Linked DNA regions of Homo sapiens. The protein of the gene in region 1 purifies or fractionates together with the protein of each later gene. This does not show direct contact. Each region holds a gene or a part of one and is shown on either strand. Other genes may lie near its edges.

Region 1 (3,754 bases):
ATGCATTGTGGAGATATTTTAAATAGGATCATTGCTAGCAGATTTATTGTTACCATTTAGCCACTCGTGCCTCAGGTTTGCCACATGCCAAACAGCATGCCACATCTCATGGCTTTCTTTATAATGAGAGTGAACATTGGTTGTATTCATTTAGAATCTACGATGAATATTGTTCCAGAATACAAATTATTCGTCAGCTTAATCTGGAAACTTAAAACAATCCTACCTAAGGCTGGATCTCACCTTCCACAGAATTGACACCGATGCTACTTTAATTCTCCTGAGCATAATACCACAACCAGAACTGCCCAAATTGGTTTGGCCTAGTTGAATGATTTTTATCAATACAAACAAACCCTTCCACGAATGGTACCAACGTTCTTGGAAGAATATCCAAAATCTGGAACATAGACTATATGGTCTGAATGGTCTGGCCTCTACTTTCCTTTCCAGCCTCACCTTGGACCAACTTGGACCAGTTGGTCATCTTGGACCAAGCTCAGCCTCTTCCCTCTTTGTGCTCAGGCACATCTGTCTGCTTTCTTCTAGTTCCCTAACCTTACCTCATTCCTTCCTGCCACAGGCTCTTTGCACTTGTTCCTTCCATGGTATGGAACGTTCTTCCCTACCTTCATACCGTTCTCCCCATTGATTGCTACCTTGTCCTTGAAATCTCCGCTCAAGTGCCACTTGCACAGGAAAGACTTCAATGAACCCTGCTCCTCAGCTACACCTCCACACCCACCCAGTCTAGTCAAGCTCCTTGTTACATTCCCTCATATAATTGAGTTTTGCCTGTAATTATCATTAATCAATGGGATTATTTGATTAATATATCTCTCTCTACCATGCAGTTACCTTCCAAAGAACAGGGGTTGACCTGGTTTTGCTCATCCTTGTACATACACCATCTGGCACAGTACCTGCTACCAGGCAGGTGCTCAATGCTACATGAGTAAATGGATGAATGAAGAATGAATATAAATTCCAAAGCTGCTCATGTCATTCATGCCGCTAAAGGACTTCATGAGATTCTAGAAAAGGCATAAACCAGCAAGTAGCCCAAAACTGTCCTTGTGCTCATTCTACATTCCTCAATCCTCTTAACTGCACTTAACTCACTTTGAGCCAGCACAAGATGAAACATTTGATCAATTTGATTTCATTTTTTTTTCATTTTTTGTAAGAACAGTAAGGTCTATTTTTTTGCCACTGAAAAAATGTATCCCTAGATAGGATCATACCTACTAAAAGTTCTGCCTTCACTTTTAGTTTATTTGATTATTTAAGTTATTTAATATTACTTAACTTTCCTTTTTTCAACCTCAAGAATAGGGCTCAGTGTGAAAGAGAAAACAAAAGTAGTACAAATTATATACAGTAAAAAGCAGCAGAAACACGTGTATTAACTTACATTGTATGTAGCATTATTTAAATTGTCCATATAGAGTCTGCTATATGCCATTCAAGAGAAGGAATCAGGGACTCCAGAATGATCTTTTTTGTAAGGTCTACAGGGGCTAGGAAGTATTTTTACATTATCCTTTCCTCCTTGGCTTTTTAGGGTGAACTCTGATACTTAGTGTCAATAAAAACTCTATGGTGCCCTGGACATTTCAGATAACAGATCATCCAGGTAAGATTAAAATCAAAATCCTTCTTTTCAAAGACTTCCCATTTTATTTTCTACCACAGAAAGAATTCCCAGTCCAAATGCCAGAGCTATTTAATTTTCATTCTGTTGACACAAGTCATTTTGCCTTTCATCTTTCTCTAAGAACAGTAAGCCACTCTGCTAGTTTATCCACTGACAGGTAACTCCAAGCAGGTAATTTAAAAATTTAATGGTCTGATGAAACATGTTTTTCATCTCAAGACACAGTATCAAAGGCAGCAATGCAAACTCAATGCCATCCACAGTGACATGAGTGACATGGTGCCCTTGGCCATATCCTGAAACTATTCCTACTTTCAAAAACCAAAACCACTGTCTTTTGGGTGCGTAATTTTTCTACCTTTGCTTTTTCTTAATGTTTACTTGAATTATAACTTAATAAGAAATATTCAATACACCACTTACCTGTTAAAACTTTAATGCGCAAGCAGAAGAGAAAGAAATACCAGAGGCCTGACTTCATGTTTGCCAGAAACAGTTAACAGTCCTCGCGTTCAGTGTTCAAAGCTGACAGTGAATTCAGGCTCTCGGTTGTTTTCTATTTGCTGGAAAGGAAGTGGGTTTTCTGGGAGTTTATGTAGTGTCACGCTTACCATCAAATCAAGGGGGTGTTTCTTCTTTGATGCCAATGGCTATATGAAAGGCATTATTGCTTATGACATGAGTTAAACAATGCATGGATTATTGATGATTTTGAAGACAGAGGAAAACATTACCCTTATTCTGGTTCCTATAAAACAAGTTAAAGAGATTATGCCTGTATTTTTCAGAACCACCCTACTTCTCTGAATCAATAGTTATGGGGGTTAACAGGACCTAAAAATACTCACATGATGAATAAAACATATATTTTGACACATTTCTATCTTATGCTAGGTGCTCCAGAGATAAGAAAGCCTTTGAAATAGGACAAGAAACAAACAAAATTATTATAGAAATTGAAGTGAAAAGATCTGAAAGAAGAGCATCATAGGAATCTGAGAAATGATATTTATGTGGCATTCATTGTAGATTGCAATGTTTCAAATGATGGGGTCAGTTTTAAACTAACTTAAACCCTGCTCCTCATATTACAGCAGAGTCTGTAGGAACCAGGGATTCCTCACCTACGGCTCAGTGAGACCAAGAATGTTTAAAAGCCTGCCGTGGTCTCCCCATCCCTGCAGGGAGGTAAAGTAGACAATAACAACAATAACAATAATAATTACATAGATAATTATATGTATATGTACTTAAATGTTTTATATGAAATAATATATCTTAATGCAAAATGTAAAAAATTAAATGTAATATATTTTATATATAAAATATACCTATTTTTATATATGAATATAGCTAATATTACATTTATATTATGTTTTATATGCATGTAAATGGTTACTGTTTGTATATATATTTACATTATAACTATAGTTTATACATACATTAACTCATTTAATCTTCTTAATCATCCCAATGGTGACCACTAATCTCCCATTTTACAGATGAGGAAAACTGAGGCACAGACAGGTAACGAACCTGGCCCAAGTCATATAGTAAGTGTCAGTGCTATGATTTAGAGAGTCTGGCTCCAGAGTCCTCACTCTTAACCGAAGCAGGTAGAACCACCAATACCAAGGCCTGCTGATCCCTCCATCCAGAAGTCTGAACGCGCTTCCAAGATGCTAGATCCAGGCTGGACTTCCCTTAGCCTGCAGAAATGACATTTAGATGAGAAGCTGAAATCAGCTGGCCAGGGAAACCAAGGTGTGAGTCCAAAAGGTCCAGGCTCTGAAACAGATTCCAGGTTTGGGGCTTTAGGCCAGCCACTAGGAATGCCAGACCACAGCCAAGGGGTCTGCAAGGTAAGGAGGAGGCTGATCCTGCAGGGATCCCCCTAGCTGCTGAAGCTTCCCCTAGCTACCTTCTGTAGGGCTCCTGGGTCTCAGCAGTGGGTGTGAAGGAAGCTGTTTGAGGGACTGAGCTAGCCTGAGAAGTAGAGCCTGGGCTGCCAGGACCCCTGGGACCTTGCTACCCCAATCTCCTCCCTTTTCACTGTACTCCCCGTAGCATCATGAGGAAAGGCTTCCAGCCCCACCG
Region 2 (3,654 bases), on another chromosome or scaffold:
AGCCCCAAGCGAGGCAGGCCGCGGGGTGAGGGGATGAGGGCTGCGTGCGTTTGTTGAGTTCCAGCTGATGCTTCAGCCTGTGGGAAGTTCCTCCCTTGCACTGTGTCATAGATCAGGGGGCAGAAGGATGGGCTCTGAGGGCACCCATACCGTACCTCTGCCCGACGTGGGCAGGCGTGAGTTGTCAGTTTAGAGAACTGACCTCTGCATTTTCATTGTCACAGCTCCTGGAGCAGAATGGAGGCTACGGGAGCGCCACACTGTCCCGAGGGCCACCCCCTCCCGTGGGCCCCGCTGGCAGTGGCTACAGTGGAGGTGAGTGCCCTGTCCTGTGCCCGCCACCTGTCCCTCGCTCCTGCTGCACCCCGGGCACCCGCAGCACATTGGGATGGAGTCTGGGGTCCTTCTCTCCCGGGGCCTCCTCTCCCACCAGAGATGACTGTGAGGTCAGGGTCCCTGAGCACACCCTCAGGTTCGGCAGTTCCCTGGGGCTCACAGAGCTCAGCAAAGCTGGTGTCTTGGTGCAGTTCAGGAGGGGGTCAGGATTCGGACTAAAGCCAGCCAAGGGAAGAGGCTCCAGGGCAGGGCCCAGGAGACCGGGCCCGAGTGACCAGGCGGCCTCGCTCAGGGGTTATGTGGGAGGCAGCCTGCGCCGTGGCCAAGACCCCAGCATAGATCACATTGTCGTGTCTGGCACAGCCCAAGGCCCCAGGGAAACAGACACCCCTTTTGGGGCTGGAGGGGGCATCCCAGGTTCCTTCCCAGGAGCTGGGAATGAAGGGCCAGGCCTGCTGTGGGCAAGGTGAACCATTTACTACAGTAGCGACCCTGAGGCCAGGGGGCAGGAGCAGGCATTGGACAGTGGAGGGCGGTGGGGGAAGACAGTTCTGCCGCTAGTGTGAGGTGGCCCCTTCTGCCGCATGAGGAGTGGGCACCTGTGATGGGCCTGGGTGTCCCTGGAGGGCCCTCAGCTGGTGAGGAGTGGAGAGGGCCCTGGAGACAGACGCTGCATGCTCTTGGAACTCCGTGCCGGGAGTGTTCCAGAAGGTTCCGGGTGAGCCGTCGAGGACATGGCCCTGACAGGCAGCGGCTGGGTCTGCAGCTCTGCATGGCGCTGACCCCTCCCGACCTCGCCCCGCATCCCCACTGCGGTGTGGGAGGTTTCACCTGGGTCCTTCACCTCCGCTTCCCAGGGAGGAGCTCAGCTCCATGTCTGGGGCACCCCGGTCCGTGCAGTGTGGGTCCCACACATGCAGGTGTAGTGGCTGGCTGGGTCTCTGCTGGCTGGAGGAAGGGTGAGTCCTCGAGCTGCTGGGTTCTGCAGTGCCCCCATCTGCTCGGTGCTGCCTGGGCCTCGGTCTCCTGTCTGCATGAGGGACTTTGGCCAGGTGTTTTTTTTTTAACACCACTTGTGCCACCAAAGCCGCCTGTGAAGACCTCACTCGCAGGACCCACCAGGCCAGGGGCCACCACTCTGCCTTCACGTCCAGGGTCATGGTGGCCTGAAGCTGTGGCCGTGAGGCCGGACTATCCCCACAGACAGAGTCCCAGCCCCAGCTGTGCTGAGGCGGCCACATAGCCCTTCCGCACCCAGATTGACCATTTCCTGGGTCTCTGGAAAGGCTGAGGACAGGGTAGACCTGCCAGTGCTGAGGCCTGGCTTCCCGCTGGGTACGTGTGGGTCAGGGGCCTGGCCATACCACCCACTCCCTGCTCCTGCTGCCTGGGCCCAGCCAGCAACCTGCACCTGGGGAGGTGGGACCGAGCGCCTGGGGAGGTGGGACCGAGCGCCTGGGGCCTGGGCCCAGCCAGCAACCCGCACCTGGGGAGGTGGGACCGAGCACCTGGGGCCTGCTGAGACTGTGTCTCCCTGCAGGCCTGGCGCTGGCGGAGTACGACCAGCCGTATGGCGGCTTCCTGGACATTCTGCGGGGTGGGACAGAGCGGCTCTTCACCAACCTCAAGGACACCTCCTCCAAGGTCATCCAGTCCGTCGCTAAGTGAGTGTGAGGCTCCAGAGCCCTGGACCTGCCGCACGCTCGTTCCAGGCTGCAGCCCCGGCCCTTGCTTCCTGGCTGCGGTGGAACAGCTGGTCATCAGGCCCCACAGGGGCCCCTGAGGCAGTGGGACAGCATCACCCGCTTCTCCCAGGGAGTCGGAATGAGCCCAGCATCCCACAGAGCCAGGCAGATCCCTTTCCTTTCATCGCCTGGGGGGCAAGGCCCTGCTGAGGAGATGCCTGGGCCCTCCCCTCCCTTGCTGCAATGTCGCCCCTCACTCTGGGGCGTTCCTGGCTTGTTCCCGGGACTCTGTAAATTGGGTGAAACCTCGGTGGTGGCGCCTCACTGAGCCAGTCCTTGAGTTAAAGCCCTAGTTACTCAGACTTAGACCAGGTGAGTCCCAGCCTGTGGTGGGAGAAAGTCTCCCTCTGGGTGGGCTGTCCAAGGGCGCGTCTGTGCGGGGGTGGCCCCGACATCGGCCCACAGGCCCGGCAGCCTCTGCTCACGGAACACTGGGAATGTTCCAGAGTGCGGCCCCTCTGCGTTGCGGGGTCCATGCGCTGGCTCTTCTGAGGAGCTGAACGCCCAGGAGCACGCTGGCTGCTCATCTGGCCCTGCGGTCGCACCAGCTCAAGGGCGTCGGCTATGTCAGGAAACAGCCTAGGAGCTGGGCTGGACTGGTGCCCGTGATGCAGGAACTGCGGCCCCTGGTGGGCCCACGTTCCTTCCACAGCTGGCGACACCTTCGGGCTTTTTCTTATGTTTTTTGTTCTGTGCTGTGATCACTGTTTTGTGTCCCCAGCACCAGGTAGACGTGTGTGCACTTGTGCCTGCATGTACCGCAGCGTCTGCACATGTGAGCGTGGGTGCATGTGTCTTTGAGCATGTGTGCATGTGAGGGAATGGGTGTGTTAACATACATATGTGAACATGTGTGCATGTGTGTGTAAATGCTGGTGTGAGTATGTGCATAGGCGTGTGTGATTGCTGGTATGAGCATGTGTGCTGGTGCTTGTGAGTCCTTGTGCTTGTGAATCCTTGTGTGAGCTGAGTGCTCGTATTGTGTGCAGGCACGTGTATGAGCACATGTGCATGTTGGAGCATGTATGCGTGTGTGCATGTGTATGCATGTGTAGGAGTGCTTGTGAGTGCGCGTGAGCTGTGTGCATGTGTACACGTGTGCGAGTGCCTGTGAGTGCACGTGAACTGCATGCATGTGTACGCATGCGCGCGAGTGCCTGTATGAGCCGCGTGCATGTGTACGCATGAGTAGGAGTGCCTGTGAGTGTGCGTGAGCTGCGTGCATGTGTACACACGCATGCAAGTGTGTGTGAGCCACATGCATGTGTACGCATGCACACAAGTGCCTGTGTGCGTGAGCTGCGTGCATGTGTATGCATGTGTGCGAGTGCCTGTGAGTGCATGTGAGCCGCATGCATGTGTGCACATGCGCGCGAGTGCCTGTGCCTGAGCTGTGTGCACATGTATGCATGCGTAGGAGTGCCTGTGAGTGAGCATGAGCCGCGTGCATGTGTACACGTGTGAGTGCGCGTGAGCCGCGTGCATGTGTACACGTGAGTGCGCGTGAGCCGCGTGCATGTGTACACGTGAGTGCGCGTGAGCCGCGTGCATGTGTACGCGTGAGTGCGCGAGC

Evidence for each region. The genes of interacting proteins can lie anywhere in the genome.
Region 2: the proteins of ICOS (region 1) and GAK purify together in Homo sapiens (co-immunoprecipitation; one study listed by IntAct). This does not show direct contact.

The regions. Positions count from the first base shown.
Region 1 is NC_000002.12:203,935,199-203,938,952, reverse strand, and holds the start of ICOS (inducible T-cell costimulator precursor), read right to left. Parts: upstream 2,191-3,754; 5' UTR 2,139-2,190; coding exon 2,081-2,138; intron 2,053-2,080; exon of another isoform or gene 1-2,052. UniProt on the Homo sapiens protein: Stimulatory receptor expressed in activated or antigen-experienced T-cells that plays an important role in the immune response.
Region 2 is NC_000004.12:887,193-890,846, reverse strand, and holds part of GAK (cyclin-G-associated kinase), read left to right. Parts: intron 1-224; coding exon 225-315; intron 316-1,876; coding exon 1,877-2,000; intron 2,001-3,654. UniProt on the Homo sapiens protein: Associates with cyclin G and CDK5. Seems to act as an auxilin homolog that is involved in the uncoating of clathrin-coated vesicles by Hsc70 in non-neuronal cells. Expression oscillates slightly during the cell cycle, peaking at G1.